Regions from separate parts of the Homo sapiens genome. Here region 1 is linked to region 2. The links come from fine-mapping of genetic effects on gene expression. Tissue or cell type: sun-exposed skin. Region 2 holds a variant in brackets; the other region holds the start of a gene. All regions are shown on one strand. Distances are from middle to middle.

Evidence for each region. PIP is the estimated chance that this variant, and not a neighbour inherited with it, causes the effect.
Region 1: MYOM3 starts here. The variant in region 2 is fine-mapped to the expression of MYOM3 in sun-exposed skin (GTEx, PIP above 0.99).

Annotation. Positions count from the first base shown.
Region 1 is chr1:24,108,298-24,116,471 of GRCh38, forward strand. MYOM3 (myomesin 3) reads right to left here and starts at 3,838. Exons shown (of 37, transcript NM_152372.4): 1 at 3,734-3,838; 2 at 179-357. The coding sequence starts at 339. RefSeq lists an enhancer at 4,040-4,548.
Region 2 is chr1:24,087,187-24,095,360 of GRCh38, forward strand. It overlaps MYOM3 (myomesin 3), which reads right to left. Exons shown (of 37, transcript NM_152372.4): 9 at 7,667-7,804; 10 at 5,761-5,922; 11 at 4,988-5,129; 12 at 3,611-3,810; 13 at 2,879-2,932; 14 at 2,352-2,479. Among named protein-coding and RNA genes, the nearest start is that of MYOM3, 21 kb to the right of the region's middle. RefSeq lists an enhancer at 5,793-6,456. The variant C/T (reference allele first, on the strand shown) is at 3,131.

The sequences.
Region 1 (8,174 bases), 21 kb after region 2:
ACATGGGGGTCTCCAGAGAGCCAATTGTGTCTCCCCCCTCAGACAGGGGGTTCAGAAAGCAGGGATGTCCCTCCCCCCATCAGGTTGGAGCCTCCAGAGGGCTAGGCTGGGCCTCCCTCCTCAGACTGGGGGCCCTGGGAACAGGGCAGTGGCTGGGCGGGGACCCTGTGGCTCCCACCTGCTGCGGAAGGTCCGCCTCCGCACAGAGGAGCCCATGCGCAGGCTGTGCTGCCGCTCCTCCTTCTGCTCCTCCTCCTGCCGGTGCTCCAGCCTGTGAACCTCCATGGCCTGGGGGGGCCGGGGGTCCCCCGCACCTCCCAAGCTGTGCGGCAGAGTCATGGTTACGAGAGCAACAACCTGTGAAGGCCAAGGTCCACGGTCATTCCACCAGGTGCCCGCCTATCCCCTCCCATGCAGTCTTCCCAACATCTCTAGGAGGCTGGCAGGATGGGGGGTGGGGGTGTCCTCTCTGCAGTCGGCAGACAGGGAAACTGAGGTCTGAGAGGGAGAGGGACCTGCCCAAGGTGACAGAGGCAGGCCTTGGGCTCTGAGCCAGGCTTCTCCTCCACCCCATGTGCTCCCCAGCTGAGTGAGCAGAGCCCCCACGTTAGGGAGCAGGGCCCTGGCTTCTAGCTGCTTCCAGCTGCAGCCCAGCCCTTGTCTCACTGTATGATCTGTGGCAAGGTTTTCGCTTCTATGGGCCTCAGCTCCCCAGACAATGAGTAATTGAAACTGTGATGTCCACGGCTGTGTCTATGACTCAGGACGGGCAGGCGTCCCCATTCTTCCTGCACCGGCCATGTTCAGTCCTACCTCTGGGCCTTTGCCCACGCTGGTTTCCTCTCCCGGCACACCCTTCCCCTCCTCCTGGCCCGCTTGGCTCTAGTCATGCTTCAAACCCCAACTGAGGGCATGCTAATTAGCAGAGAGACTCTGAGTCCAGCCCACAGGGTGTGATCCCAGCTCCTTATCCCAGCTTTCAAGTGTGTAACCTTGGGAAAGACTCATGACTTTGTTTCCTCATCTGTAAAATGGGTCTACTAACCTCCCAGGGTAGTTGTGAAGGTTAGATGAGTGCTTGGGGCTTAGTAAGTACAACATAAGTATTAGGCATTAGCATTATTTTTCTAAGAAGCCTTGCAGAAAGACTACAGGCCACCTAGAATTTTCCCTCTTCTCATTTCTTTTGTACTTATTTTCTAGCACTCCACAATTTAGCATTGATTCAGACAATGCTTTCTCTATGTAATTATTTTGTATCTGTGCATCTTGACTGTTCAACAAGACTGTAAGTGAATTAAAAGTAACAATAGTGAGAACTTACTATGTTCCATGCCCATGTTAGTTTTCAAATGCATTATCCCCAGTCCCTGCAATAACCCAAATGAGGACAGCACCATTATTATCCCATTTTACTGATGAACAGGGGCAGTACTTGCTCAAGGTCACCCAGCATGATGGTGGGGCCATGACTGGCAGCCAATCCCTAGCCCAACCCCTAGCCCTTCTGATCTCTATGTCATATGTCCATTCAAGGCCAGGCCGTGGCAGAGGCTGGGGACACGGTGGGCCACAGGGCCTTTCTCCTTATAAGGGGATTGCAATGTACACATCTCCTTTGCATTCCCAAGGCTCAAGTCTAGGCCCGTGATGGCGCCCAGTGGGGCCGGATCAGATTGACCCAGGGGAGGCTCAGGAAGCGGATCCATGGATATGGAGAGGCAAACGAGGGGTGTGGGAGGCCCGTGTGCCCGCTGGCTGTGGGTTTTTGCACTGAGTTTTCTCATATCCGGGCTTCAGTCACTGCTGGGTCTCTGAGGGCCCCCCTGATGCTAAAGCTAAAATCCCTGGAATGGCTTTCACACCTCCTCCAGGTGGGAATCCTGGTCTGCAGGCTTCTGGCATGGGAGGGTTCCTGCCCAGGCGTGGGGATGGAAACAGAAGAGGGATGACCGCCTGCCTTGGCCTGCTCCTGTCAGCTTCTGTGGGGTCAGCTCTGTCTGGCCCCTGCCTCTCTAGAGGGTCCTGCTGGAGGTGGCAGCGTGTGTGTGTGTGGGCGTGCATGTGTGTGTATGTGTGTGTGTGCGTGCATGTGTAGGCTGTCTTCTGCCTGGATGTGAACACAGCACCTAGGTGACCATTTCTCTAAGTCCATGGCATGGAAGGTGAGCCCACTGGCTTTATTGGAGAGCCGTTGGCCTGGAAGGGGCATGTGGTGGAGGTGTCTGGGGCTCGGGCTGTGGAGGGTCAGTCTTAGTGGGCTTTTACCCCTTCTACTTCCTAGAAGTTTGCTCCTTTTGGGTGTCTGCAGTTGTGGGCATCAGGAAAAAGAGAATGGATGGCTGCAGGGTTAGCTGGGACCAAGGGCTGCCCCCTAAAGCTCCCTGGGCTCCTGCTAATCATCTCAAATGACATAATGGGACAGTCACCCTCTTTGGCTTCGTATCACTCCCTCCCGATGGAAGAAGTTCTCTTTGCACCCAAAGAAGTGGCTAGCCCTGCTCATTCTGCTCTTTCTTCCTCATGGCCCAGGAGGAGAGCTGCTGGGTACCACCCTAGGTGGAGCAAGGACCCCCCACTCTGCCCCAGCTTTCCTGGGACACGATGGCCCTGGCTCCAGTGGCTGAGAGTTAACATTCCCTGGCACCAGCCACTGGCTCCCTTCCCCTGGATGCTCTGTTCCCGATTAGCACAGCAGGCAGGGGCCTGGCGCTCGTCCCTGACCTCGGGGCCTCCAGCAACCAGACCCCTGGCTTTAGCGGATGAGCTACCAATTCTTTTTAAAGCACTGACTGATGCGTGGTATTAAGCAGGGACAAGTTTGCGGCCTCACTGCCCTTTCCCAAAGGACCAGGGTGCCTCTTCCCGGAACACTGTGTGTGCCTGCGTGGAGGGGAAACTGCCCCCGCTTCCCTCTCTTGGGGTGCAAAAATCTGGGCCAGAGGTCCCACTGCGTGGCCTTCCCTATTCCCCTCTGCTTTCCTCCCAAGCCTCCATCTGCCGAGGAGGCCTCTCCCCTTCTTCAGGAGGGAAAGAGGAATGCACAGCAGTTGAGCCAAGACCCCTCCAGGAGCTGCGATGGGGGCGGATGGTGGCTGGGAGCAGAGACACATCCTGCGGGCGGCGGGTGGCACAGGCTGGGACGTGTTCTTAGCCAGTGGCTCCACCAGCTTCCGCGAGGCCGAATCCTGCCCTTGCCAGTCATGAGCTGAGGCAACTCCTTTCCCGTCTGGGCCTCGGTTTCCTGTCAGGCACTGGATGAAATCCCTTCCAGCTCTAAGATTTGGGATCCGAGGGCTCGCTCTCTTTCCCTGCCTGTGGGGTTGGCCAAGCCGGGCTCAGCCAGCTCCGCTCTAAGTTCGTGGAACTTGCCAGCTTAGCCTGGCTCCCGCTTATCGCTGCTCCATCACAGGAAAGACTCCAGTTCCCAGGGCAGCCCCCACTCTTTTTTTTTTTTTTGCAACTTTCACATCACAGACAGCTCAGCTCTCAGAAGACCCAGGGCCACACAGAACAGTGGGATGGGGCAGGGGTTTCTGGAATCCCCTCCCATTTTCACTTGGGTGCTGCCTCAGCACAAATTTCCCAGGCTCCTTTCACAACACACAACACACATACACACAAACACACACACGTGCACACACACACACACATGCACCCACAGATATCACTCCCCAGTGGCTGACTCTTAGGAGGCATCCCTCCCCCACCCTGATTTCTGGGGGTGACTCACAGAAGCAGTGTGCCCACTTAGGAGTCTCTGGGGAGAAGATTCCTGAGGCCGAGAGGGTCCTTGTTCTCTTCTTGCCCTCGGCTCAGCGGGCACCGGGAGAAGAATGCGATCCCGGAGACTGCACCGTCTTAAATATAGCAGCACTGAGACAGTACAATGACAATGGATGAGAACTATGGCATCGGGGACAGGGGGCCAAGGGGAGGGGCCATTCCGTGTCTCCAGCCTGCTGGGCAGCAGCGACAGGTGGAGCTGTCCGCCGCGTCCCCCCACACTGCTCCTCCTCTCAGCTGGGTCCTTTCTGCCCAACCCAAGCCCCTGTTAAAATGGAAAGGAGGGAACGGCTCAGGCATGGTCGTATGGAGGGCAGATCCCGTGCGGCGTTCTCAGCTGTCGGGAGTTCTGATCTGAATTCTGCCCCGGCTGACTGGGTGCCCTGGGGAAGGCGCTCAGCTTCCCTGAACTGACTGCCTTCTGAAAAACGGAGACAGTGAGACTGGGCACCTGGACTTCATGAAGACGGTGGAAGGAATATGACCTAAAAGTGAGTGTTTCGTGCTCAGAAGTTGTCACTGGCTAAAACAGCAATGTGTGGCTCCTGGTCCCTCCACCACTCCGGTAGTTACTACACGGCCCCCGCCCTGACCACAGTCATGTGTGTGTGGTGTGGTGCAGGCAGGAGGAGCTGGGGAGCCACCTACTGCTTCACTGTGCAAACTGCTCAGGCTGCCAGAGTGTCCCCTGAAGGGCCTTCTTATAGGGTAAACGCACCTGACAGGGATAACTGAAGCACGCTCCAAGAATGACCCTGTGTGGAAGACCTGAATATGTGTTCCGAGCTAAGGAATCTGGGGAGTAGCCAACCCGTTTCTTACCTACGATGAATATCTGAGCCCCCGTCCCGTCCCTTCTGGTGGAACGCTGGCCATACAGGGGATTGAGGCCCTGAGTTTTGGGTTAAATGAAGATTGCCAGGTGGAGGTCATTAGGGGATGGTGTAAAGTGAAAATGCTCTATAAACTGCATGCTGTTTGCAAGGGGCTGAGGTTTTCCTGCCCAGTCGGCCGCCACTGGTATGTTGTCCAGCCCGCCGCCCCTGGACCATTTCTGTATGTAAGGCGGTTCTCCTGTCCAGTTCATCACCAGTGGACTCTCTCTCCTGTAGGCAAGCCCCTAACAAACCCCCACGTTCCTTCCTTTCCTTCCTTCCCTTCCTTCTCTCCCTTTCTTTTTCTTTCTTTCTTTCTTTCTTTCTTTCTTTCTTTCTTTCTTTCTTTCTTTCTTTCTTTCTTTCTTTCTTTCTTTCTTCTTTCTCTTTCCTTCCTTCCTTCCTTCTTTCCTTCTTTCCCTCCCCCCCTCCTTCCTTCCTTCCTTCCTTCTCTCTCTCTTTCTTTCTTTCTTTCTTTCCTTCTTTCCTTCTTTCTTTCCTTCTTGAGTCAGAGTCTCACTTTGTTGTCCAGGCTGGAGTGCAGTGGCATGATCTCAGCTCACTGCAACCTCCGCCTCCTGAAACCCCCATGTTCCGTTTGCTGGCTATGGATCTTTTCTTTGGCCTCTCAAACCTGGTGCCTTCCCTACTGAGGTTAATAGGTGTTCGGCACCACACCTCTTCCCACCCTTTGCCCTCTCCTGCCATTCCCTCAGTCTCAATTCTTTCCCCCTCACATTCATTGGCACCTACCCTATGCCAGACCCTAACCTACAGGGGAAGTCAGGCACTTACGACAGGAGGTGATCAGGAAGGTGCACCTGGGTCGAGTCTCAGAGGATGAGCCGGTGAGGGGAAGGCTGTACCGGCCCCTAGCCAGAGAGCACAGCTTCCCTCCCTCACCCCTTCCTGCGACCTCAGGTGGCCACCCACACTACACCTGTCACTCTTGCTGGTGCCTCAGGGACTCCTCACTCGAGAGAAGGAGAGAGAGAGCACAAGTGAACTTTGCAGGCAAAATCTGAATCCCCTGCCCTATTTGAAAACCCCTTTCTAAGCTCTTCTGTGGCTCTCTCTTACAGCATCTTTTGGGAGAGAACATTTCTCTCCCATCTTCTATTGACCCAATCGAACAAGGGCTTTCCAAGACTCATCTTCATACATTTGCTGTGAGGGATGAGTGTGAGTGAATCCGTACGAACAGCAAAGAGGGCTTTGAGCTTCCAACTGAGCAGGAGACAGTCATTTAAACAGGTCCTCTAGCCCCGTCCTCCCAAGGCAATCTGGGGAGATGAATGAAGGTGCACTGGAGAGACAGGGTGCATCCTGGAGTCAAACCGGCTTAGGCTTTCAATTCAGTCCCACCACTTATTAGCTGGATGACCTTGGGGAAGGCACTCAGCCAGTGTGGTTTGATTATCTGTACAGTTGAAGACAACAATTTCCACTTAGCTGTCTCATTGAAAATGTTCAATCAGGCTGGGCATGGTGGCTCACACCTGTAATCCCATCACTTTGGGAGGCCGAGGCGGGTGGATCACCTGAGGTCAGGAGTTCGTGACCAGCCTGGCCAACATGGTGAAACCCCGTCTCTACTAAAAATACAAAAATTAGCTGGGTGTGGTGGGGGCGCGCCTGTAATCCCAGCTGCTTGGGAGGCTGAGGCAGGAGAATTGCTTGAACCCAGGAGGTGGACGTTGCAGTGAGCTGAGATGGCGCCATTGCACTCCAGCCTGGGTGACAGGAGTGAAACTTTGTCTCAAAAAGAAAAGAAAAAAAAAAAGAATAGAAAAGAAAAGAAAAGAAAATGTTCAACCAAGAACCGTGAAACCTCCAGCACGGCGTCTGGCCCCGGACAGACGTTTGCTAAATGAAAGCTCTAGGAATGCTGATGGCTTTCTCTTACCCCATGCTTCTGGGGGTGGGATTCCCATGTATCCCTTTGTTGACCTCACCCCAGTGAAGCACTCAGTCATCACTGGAACCTCTGTAAACATGGCCAAGCCTAAGGTCATGCGGCTGAGCAGAGAGATTAGATGACTTGATGTTATACAAGCCTTGGTTTAAATCCCAACCTCTGGTGCCTCAGTCACTAACAGGGGGACCTTGGCCTCCTTTCTGGGCCTCAGTTTCTTTCTCTGTAGGTGGAGGACACATTCCAAGATAGCAGAGAACTTGCCTGCCTGACCATATCCCTACCCCCGAGAACAGTGCTTGGCATACACCTGGCCCTCAATTCACATTTATTTACAAATGAATCAGTGGGCTGGGCGCAGTGGCTCACGCCTGTAATCCGAGCACTTTGGGAGGCCGAGGCAGGTGGATCATGAGGTCAGGAAATCGAGACCATCCTGGCTAACAAGGTGAAACCCTGTCTCTACTAAAAATACAAAAAATTAGCAGGTCGTGGTGGTGGGCTCCTGTAGTCCCAGCTACTCAGGAGGCTGAGTTAGGAGAATGGGGTGAACCCGGGAGGCAGAGCTTGCAGTGAGCTGAGATGGCGCCACTGCACTCCAGTCTGGGAGACCAGAGAGAGACTCCGTCTCAAAAAAAAAAAAAAAAAAGAAAAATGAATCAGTGAATGGTTACTGTCTTAGTTCGTTTGAGCTGCTACAACAAAATACATTAGACAGGGTCATTTATAAATAACAAAAGTTTATTTCTTACGGTTCTGGAGACCAAGAAGTTCAAGATCAACGTGCTAGCAGATTCAGTGTCTGGTGAGGACCTGCTCTCTGCATCATAGATGGTGCCTCTTGTGGAGTCCTCATGTGGTGGAAGGGGCTAGGGCACTCTCTTCAACCTCTTTTATAAGGGCATTAATCCCATTCCATTTTTATTTTTTTCCCCGAGACAGGATCTTGCTCTGTTGCCCAGACTGGAGTGCAGTGGTGCAGTCATGGCTCACTGCAGCCTCAACCTCTTGGGCTTAAGTGATCCTCCTACCTCAGCCTCCTGAGTAGCTGGGACTATAGGCACGCACCACCACACCAGGCTAATTTTTGCGTTTTTTGTAGAGACAGGGTCTCACTGTGATGCCCGGGCTGGTCTCAAACTCCTGGCCTCAAGGGATCTTCCCACCTTGGCCTCCCAAAGTGCTGGGATTACTGGCTTGAATCACCACCATGCTGGCCTCTTGATCCCATTATTGAGGGCATAGCCTTCATGGCCTTCCAAAGGGCTCACCTCTTGCTACTATTACATGAAGTTTCAACATATGAATTTTGGGGGGACTCCAACATTCAGACTATAGCAATTGCCTATCTTGCAGAATGGCTGGGAGACTCAGATAAGGTTAAATGTGTAAAATACCTACTATAGTACCTGGCTTATCTTTCTTCTTTCTCCCCTTGCCTTCTTTTCTCTTTTATTCCCTTCCCTGGACTTATGACCATTAAGAACAAACTGACTGCTCTGAACCTCCATGCTGTTTCTCCGACAGCAACCAAGCCTGTGGCTTTCTCCCCCTGTGTGGCGACACTGTACCTGCTTCAGTCTCCCGTCCCTCCCTGT
Region 2 (8,174 bases):
CCTTCAAAATTTACCCAGAAACCAGCCATGCCTTATTGTCCTCATGCTCCCCACCATAACCTTGATGCAGGCTGCCAGCACCCCGCACCTGAACGATCTCAATGGCCTCTTGACTGGTCTCCCCTCCATTTCTACCTATAACCCCCTTCCGTCTTGTCTCAAATGGCCATCAGGGGGATCCTTTTATAGCACGTGTCAGACCAGGTCCCTGTCTGCCCAGAACCCTCCCACGTCCCGCATCTCCCTCAGAGCAAAAGCTTCCCCATCGCCTGACCCCTCGGCCTGTCTGGCCACCGTTCCCTCTGCCCTTAGTCTCTGTGCCTCTCTGCTGTTTCCTGAGGGTCCAAGTCCCACCTCTGGGCCTTTGCACTTGCTGGTCCCTCAGCCTGGAATGTTCTTCTCCGAGAAATCTCTTGGCTTCCTGTAGGCCTTTAATAAAAATCCACCTTCCTGGGCAGTGGGGAGGCCATCCCAGCCACTCCATCTAAAAATGTCAGCAGCTCCTCTCCCCACACTTCAAGTTCCCCTCCCTGCTCAATGTCTTTCTCCTTAGCGCCTACCACTCACTACTGTGCTTAATATTCTACTGATTTACTCCATTTATCATTGGCACCCCCTCCCCTGACTGCCGTGTCCCTAGGGCCAAGAACAGGACTGGCACATAGCAGGTGCTCCATCTATGTTTCTGGGACAAATGAATGAACAAATGAATGAATTCTCACAATAACCCTGCAGGAAGGTGTTAATTTCTCTGCCGATGAGGAAAGTCAGGTTCAGAGAGTTTCGGTAACTTGGCCAAAAGTCCTGCATCTAATAACTGGTGGATATAGTATTAAACTTCACTCAGGTGTGGTTGGCTGCGAACCTGTTTACTCTCCACAGCATCAGGGACCCAGAAGGCAGCCAGAAACCCCGAGTCTCTGGGCAGATGGAGGGTGGAGAGCCCAGGGTGAGACAGATGAGTGAGGTACCCAGAGACCCTTTCTGCTGAGTCTGGGCAAGAGAGTTAAGACCTAGAAGCACAAGGGGACCCACTGATTCCACGCTCTGTGGTTTTCCCCCCACAAGCCCATCTGGCTGTCAGTGGCCTAGACCAGGTAGGACAAGAAATTGCCATAAGAAACCATGAACACTGCTGAGCTCCTACTGTGTGCCAGGCTCCATTCTAAGTCTTTATGTGCGCTAATTAATTTGATCCTCACATTAACCCTACAAGCTGTGTATGATTATTATCATTTTATGGAAGAAGAAACAGAGGCACAGAGAAACTAAGTAACTTGCCCAAGGTCACGCAGCTGGTAAGTAGCAGAGATAGAATTTGAACCCAAGCAGTCTGACGCCAACATCTTCACCATGATACACTACCACCTTGTGAAACAAATCCTCAATTATCTACAGCTTTCCTATGTCGGAGAAAAAGGATTACCCATGAGTGTGAAAAGAGAGGCCTGTTTGGATAATCAGAGCCAGAGATTCCTCCCTGGAAATTTTAAATTCATTTATTCCCTAAACATTTTCTGTCCACCTAGTTTGTGCCAGGCATTGTGCTGGGCACAGAAAGTAATGAGAAGATAAACTTAGTCTCTGACTTCAGGGAGATAGTCAAGAACACCTCCTTGGGAAGCACTGACAGATCCCAGGGGTTGCTGGCTTTGGCTGTGGGCTGTGTTTTATTTCATCTTCACAGGGCAGGTTCTCTATTCTATGCTGGAGGAAACTGAGGCTCAGAGAGTTTAGGACACTCACTCAGGATCACACAGCACAAGGAAGGATTTGAATAGATTTTGACACCATGCTGTCTTCTACTCTGCCATACTGCCCCCCCTCCACTGTGAAGTTCACTCCACAAGACCTGCCTCATCCCCGCCGGGGTCTCCCCTGCCCCCACTCCCCAGTGAGAGCCACCTCCTAGTGCTAATCACACCATAGGCTCTGCAAGTGCTGCTGGTGCCTGTCCCTGGCTGGAGGGTACCAGCCTTGTTTCCCTCCCAACATAGTCCCACCAAGAAGTGCTTGGCCCCAATGTGTGGTCTGATGCCATCTGGCTTGGGGGCAGGGAGGTACCCAGGAAGTGGTGGATCGTATTGTCATTGTTGTCTGTGTCTTGTATTTTGTGTATTTCCACGAACAGCCTCAGGAACGACCAGCAGTGACTGGCTTCCAGGGCTAGAGGTAGCTGCAAAAGGCTATTCAATCCATCCCCTTGCCTCTGTGTAGGGCCATGCCTGGGCCCTTCTGGCCAGGGGATTCTCTTTCATTCTCTGACGGCCTCCCCAGGGGACACTGCCCAGGGTCCCACAGCACATCTGTTTCTCAGGCTGGCCTGGGGCTGGGGCCTCGGGGTTCCCTACCTTCTCCAGGGAGTACGTCAGTGGTGCTCTGTCCCGGGGGCTGGGCTCCTCCCAGGCCAGAACCACATAGGCCTCTCGGATCTCGCTGGCATGGACATTGGTTGGCGGTGAGGGGATGGTCACAGTATCTGAAATCAGAGTCACCCGGGACCGAGATGGTTGGACCCTCAGAGACCCCCTAATCTCAGTGCCTCATTCCATGGAAGAGGGAACTACACCCCTACCCATCCCCCAGAGAGGGGCAGTAGTTGGCTCCAGGTCACTCAGCAATGCTGGGCAGAGCCGGGGCTAGAACCCAGGTCTCCCACTGCTCTGGCCAGGACTTTTCCCAATGTGTTCCCTCCTCCAGGAGGGCCACAGCCAGATGGGCCACAGTGACCCCAGCACTCTGACTGCCTCCAACTAGGCCCCACCTGCCCTCATCCCCCACACCCTGCACTGGGACAGCTTCTGCCTCTTTGCCAGCTCATGTCCCAGAGTTTTGAGAACTATACAGGAGGCCCAGTGTGTGGGAGGATCCCGCGTACCTTCAAAAGCGTCTGTGCTGATGGTGATCTTGTTTCCCAGATCAAAGGGGATCTCTAGGATGAGAAGGGAGCATGGGAGGGTGGGGGGTGGCACAGGAGGAGTTAGGCCAGGAGCTACCCCACACCAGGGTCTGCGTCCTGCCCCGTCCCAGTCCTGGCCTTGCAGCCCTCGCTGTGCAACCTCAGACAGGTGCCCTCCCTCTGGCCTCAGCTTTCTCAGGAGTCCCAAGTGGAGCCCTGCTGCTCTCAGGC[C/T]CTGGCACATGCTCTTCCTCTTGGGACAAGTGGAGACAGAGAGGAGGAGGGAGGTGCCTGGCGCTGGGCACCCTGCCACGGTGGAGCTTCTAGCACACCCAAGTCAGCGTGGCTCCCGAGGGCTGAGAGGAGGCCGTGTCCCCGCACTCGAGCTTAAGGACATCTGACAGGTGCTGGGGTAGGGTGCTCCCTCAGACTGGTCTCTCCCATGGACAGGTTTGGTTTCTCCCATTAGACTAGCTGTATCTTCCTTCTCAGGCTAGGGGTTCCTAAGGACCGGATTGTGTCTCCTCCATCAGACTGGAAGTTCTCGAGGGCTGGCCTTTGTCTCCTTCATCAGACTAGTGTTTACTGAGGGCTGGGCTGTGCTTCCTCCACCAGACTCGGGGCTCCTGAGGGCTGGATTGTCTCCTGTGTGAGACAGTCCTGAGGGTTCCCTGACTGATGTTCTAGAAAGTCGCTTAGGACCTCTGTACCCACCTGTCTTCCTCCGGGCTGCATCATGGTCACCCATGACAACCAACTCTGAGGCCTTGGAGGGGACGCTGCTGCCTACCCTGCTGATGGCTCTCACCCGGAACCGATAGCTCTGACCTTCGACGAGGCCTTGGATTGGGCACCGACAAGTCCCTCCGGGGGCCTCATGGCAGGCGATCCATTCCCCAGACTCGCCCTGGCACCTGTTGGAGACAGGCCCCCCCTTTCAGCCCCTGCCCACAATGCACACCTTCCCAATGTGAGCCTCTACAAGGGCCTTTCTCTGACTGGGGGAGCCTGCCCAGCTCATCTCTGCCAATTAAAGTTCTTCTCTCCAATGGAAGAGCCTGGCTCCAACCTCGGGCCCCCGGGAGACCTTTTCACCATCCCTGACACTGACCAGCAGCAGTGCCTTTCATGGGGCATCATCGTGAGCCTGTGACTGTGCTGTGCCCTCCACACCCAGCCCTCGTTTTATCTCCCTGGCAGTCCTAGGGGGCACGTGTGGTCACCTTCACTGCACACATGGAGGATCTGTGGCTCAGAGAGTGACAAGACCTGCCCAAGGTCACACAGTTAGGATTTACCTGAGCTTGTCCCCTCCCTAAGTTGGCATGCATTCCAGGTTGACCCTCCAAGCCTGGGCTCTCTGTACCCTCTTGGTACCATTGTTCCAGGCAGTACGACAGTGCACGTTACCCTTATTGTTACCAGCTGGTTGAGGTAGTCGTCACATGTGGGTCCAAGTCTTGTCTCCACCACTAATGACAAATGTGTCTTTGAGCAAAGTCATCTCCCCACATACTTTGGTTTCCCCATCTATAGAAGAGGGCATTAGATAGTCCCCCTCCCCTTTAGAGACGGGTCATTGGAAGGATGGAAAGAGATGAGGCATGCCCTTAGCACGGTCATGAGCCTGTCCGTGGCAGCATTAGCTATTTTCTCAAGCTGGGCCTTCAGAGCCGGCCACACTGGAAAAAGGCCGGAGGTTCTGGCCTCTCTACCTGTTTGCCTCCTCCCTTGGGGTCAGTGCTATTCCATCTCTCTCTGTCATTAGGAAGGAAACTAGCCCACGAATTCACTGTGCTCAGGGTTCAAGCACTCCCCGTTTTGCCCCTCTGGGTCAGCTCTAGAGGGTCCACAGGGCAGTGGCCGACTCCAGCATAGAATTCCAGTTATCAGCATGACAAAGACTTGGAGGTGTGGATGCCCCTCCATTGCCCCTAAATGACACAGCACAGCCTGTCTCCTGTCCTTTTCTGAGGAGCGGGGGTGTGAGGGTTCTCTGAGGTCAGACATGGGGCCTCCTCTTTGCTGTGGCTCCCACCACCAGACAGAATTCTACCCCTAGGGCCTCTGCCACTCACGAGGTCGACTCACCGCTCAATGGTGTAGGCAGTGATGGGGTTGCCCCGGGTGTCACTGGGCGGGGCCCAAGTCAGGATGAGGCAGTCTCTGTTCACATCCAGGCATCGGACGTTCAGTGGGGAGCCTGGGGCCCCGGGGTTCTCGGCCTCGGCATCTGAAACCCGGGGGTGAGAGGGAGGCCCTTCTAGTCAGTGGCCATTTGGTGACAGGCCCTTCCCACTCCCGCCCAGCATCCTCTTCTCATCCATCCTCCAGGGGCTCAGTTTTGATCTTGAGGACTGGGGCCTGAATATTAGTCCCACTACCCCCATAGCAGTATCTGAGGGAAGGATGACAGTACCATTTCTTGGGGGCCCATTTTACACCAAGTACCTGAACAAGTGGAATAATTAATTCCAGCCCCAGAGCAGCCTTCCCCTCTTTGGATGGGGAAACTGAGTCTCCTGGAGGTGAGTGAGTGACCTGCCCAAAGTCACCCAGCTGGTGAAGTGACAAAGCCAGGATGTGAACCCAGGCCCTAAGCAGTGGCCAGAATCACTCCAGCCCCACACTCAGCTCCCAGCCTCCCTGGCTCCAGCCAGGCTAACTCTCGGGCCATGTCCCTTTGGAGGGTCATAGGATGCCACGGGGAGTCTTGGAGACCCCAACCCAAAGCCCTGATTTTATGGTAGAGAAATTGAGGCCCCAAGAGAGCAGGGTCCTTGCCTAAGGTTCCACAGCAAACAAGGGGCAGAGCCCTGGTCTCTGGGCTCCTGCTGCTACCCTGCGCCCACCCATGCCCTCACCTCTCACAAGCACGTAGGTGCTCTGTTCCCGGGGTCCGAAGGGCGAGGGCACCCGGACCATGTAGAGCCCCTCGTCCTCCTTGTAGGTGCAGGACACCTTCAGGGATGCCTGGCGGTCTGTGTAGAGGATCTTCCGACGTCTCGAGGACCTCAGTAGGCTCCCTGTGGAGGGGAAGTGGGGGGCCATTGAGTTTGTGGGGGGTCCTGGTCTCACCTGGGAACCACAGAAACTGGGGGGTCTGGAGACCCTGGCTGGGCAGAGAGAGAGGCTGGTGAGGCTCAGCTCAGGCCTTGGGTGGGGGTGGTGGCCTCCAGGGCTTTGCCAAGGCAGGCAGTGGAGAACTCTCCTTTGCAGAGGGCTTGGGGAGTAGGGAAGGGCCAGTGCGGGGCTGGGGCTCAATGAGGGAGTGAGGGTTTAGGGACATAGCCAGTGACAAGGTGAGGAGTTGTAGGTTCTCTGAGGGAGTAGGAGCAAGAGAGATGGGTCCCTGTATGGGGTCAGGGGACTCAAAGAAGGAGGGCCCGTTTGGGGGAGGTGGGAGCTCAGTAAAGGGCCTGGGTCTCACTGAGAGAGCTGGGGCCTCGGTGAGGCGGGTGGAGGACGTGTCGTGGGGTCAGGGGTCAGGTAAGGGAGTGAGGGCTCTCGGGATGGGAGCTTAGGAGGTGGATGGGGACTCAGAAGTGGAGTCCAGGGCTCAGGGGCGGGCCCTGCCTTGAGGCCACACTGTGGGGCCAGCTCTTCTCTTTGCCCCATGTGAAGGATCCGCCCTCCATTCAGCACCTCCATTCTGGAAGATCTACACGTTTGGGAAGACGTCTCAGCCTTGTTATTGCAGCTGTCAGGGATCCTGATGGCTCCCATACTCCCTGCTCCCAGCAGGTGCAGCCTCCCTGGGCTCAGAGCTGGGGGTGCCAGAGGGGCACTGTACTCTGGGTCCTTAGGCTATAGGCCTAGTCATGGATTGGGTAGGAGGTCCAGCCGTCGTCCTCCTCCCTCACTGGGCCACGTCTTCCTGCCTTGGCTCTGACCAGGCTTCTCAAGGCCTCGCCTGAGACATCCCCAGAGGCCTCCCAGCCCACGGGTCAGCAACTGTATCTGCACCACCACCCTGACTCTGCAAAGTCCGATGCAACTGTTGCAGCCTGCCCTGAGCACTTGTGGTGCCCTCCTGCCTCCCGATCTTGGGGCTCTGTTCCCATTGCTTTGAGTGCCCTCACTCACTTTTTTTTTTTTTTTTTTTTGAGATGGAGTCTTGCTCTTGTCCCCCAGGCTGGAGTGCAATGGTGCCATCTCGGCTCACTGCGACCTCTGCCTCCTGGGTTCAAGCGATTCTCCTGCCTCAGCCTCCCGAGTAGCTAGATTACAGGCACCCACCAACATGCCTGGCTAATTTTTGGTATTTTTAGTAAAGATGGGGTTTTGCCATGTTGGCTAGACCTGAACTCTTGACCTCAGGTGATCCACCCACCTCAGCCTCCCAGAGTGCTAGGATTACAGGTGTGAGCCACCACGCCTGGCCTCCCTCCCTCACTCTTAGGGAGGTAATGATGCATGCAAATGGCTGAGCAGGTGCCTGGTCAGTGCCAGCGGCTACAATTGTGCTGATGGCTTCCTCCCTCCTCCCAGGTGGACACAGCCCCCTGGGCTCATGCACATCTGCCCCTACCATTTACCCCAGCCCTAACCCAGGGCCTGGCACCCCACAGATGCTTGGTGGCCATTTATGGGGTGGCATGATCTGACCACACCTGGCTGCACTCCCGCTCTCCTCTGCCTCTTCAGCACTTTAGCACAGTTGGTACTGGTTGGGGAGAGTCTCTGTCCGCTAGGGGTCCTCTCTGGCTCTGAGTTGAGCTTTGGAGGGGCCAGCTCTGGAGGCTGGGGGCCAGGACTGGGGGTCCTTACCATCTCGGAACCACTGGATGCTCTCAGCATCTAACACATCTTCCGAAAACAAGCATGACAGGGAGAAGGGTTCCTTCTCACGAGCAAAGACTGGCTTCAGCACCGAGGTGAATTCCACGCTGGGGCCAAACGTCGATCCTGGCGTGGGAATGAAATTTGGGGCAGAAGTTTTTGAGGCAGCCAGCCTGGCCTGGGACTTAGGAGTGAGGAAATTTCTGGGGCATCCCTTCTCTTCTGGGTCTTGACTAGGAGAAGGGGACCTGGCCTTGGGGTAGGAGGGGAAGAGACTTATCTAGGTAGTGGTCAGAGCAGCCAAAGAGCAAACATCCCAAGGCCAAGTCCGTTGGTTTTTCTGGCTTTGCCTTTCAAACCCAGTTTAGGTCAGAGAACAGCTCAGCAGCTGGGGACAGCTCTGGGGTACCCTGCGGCCTTTAGAAGTCAGGTGCAGGTATTACCAGCTCATAGACAAACCCCGGTGGACGTCCTTTTATGGGCAGGGGATGGCTAT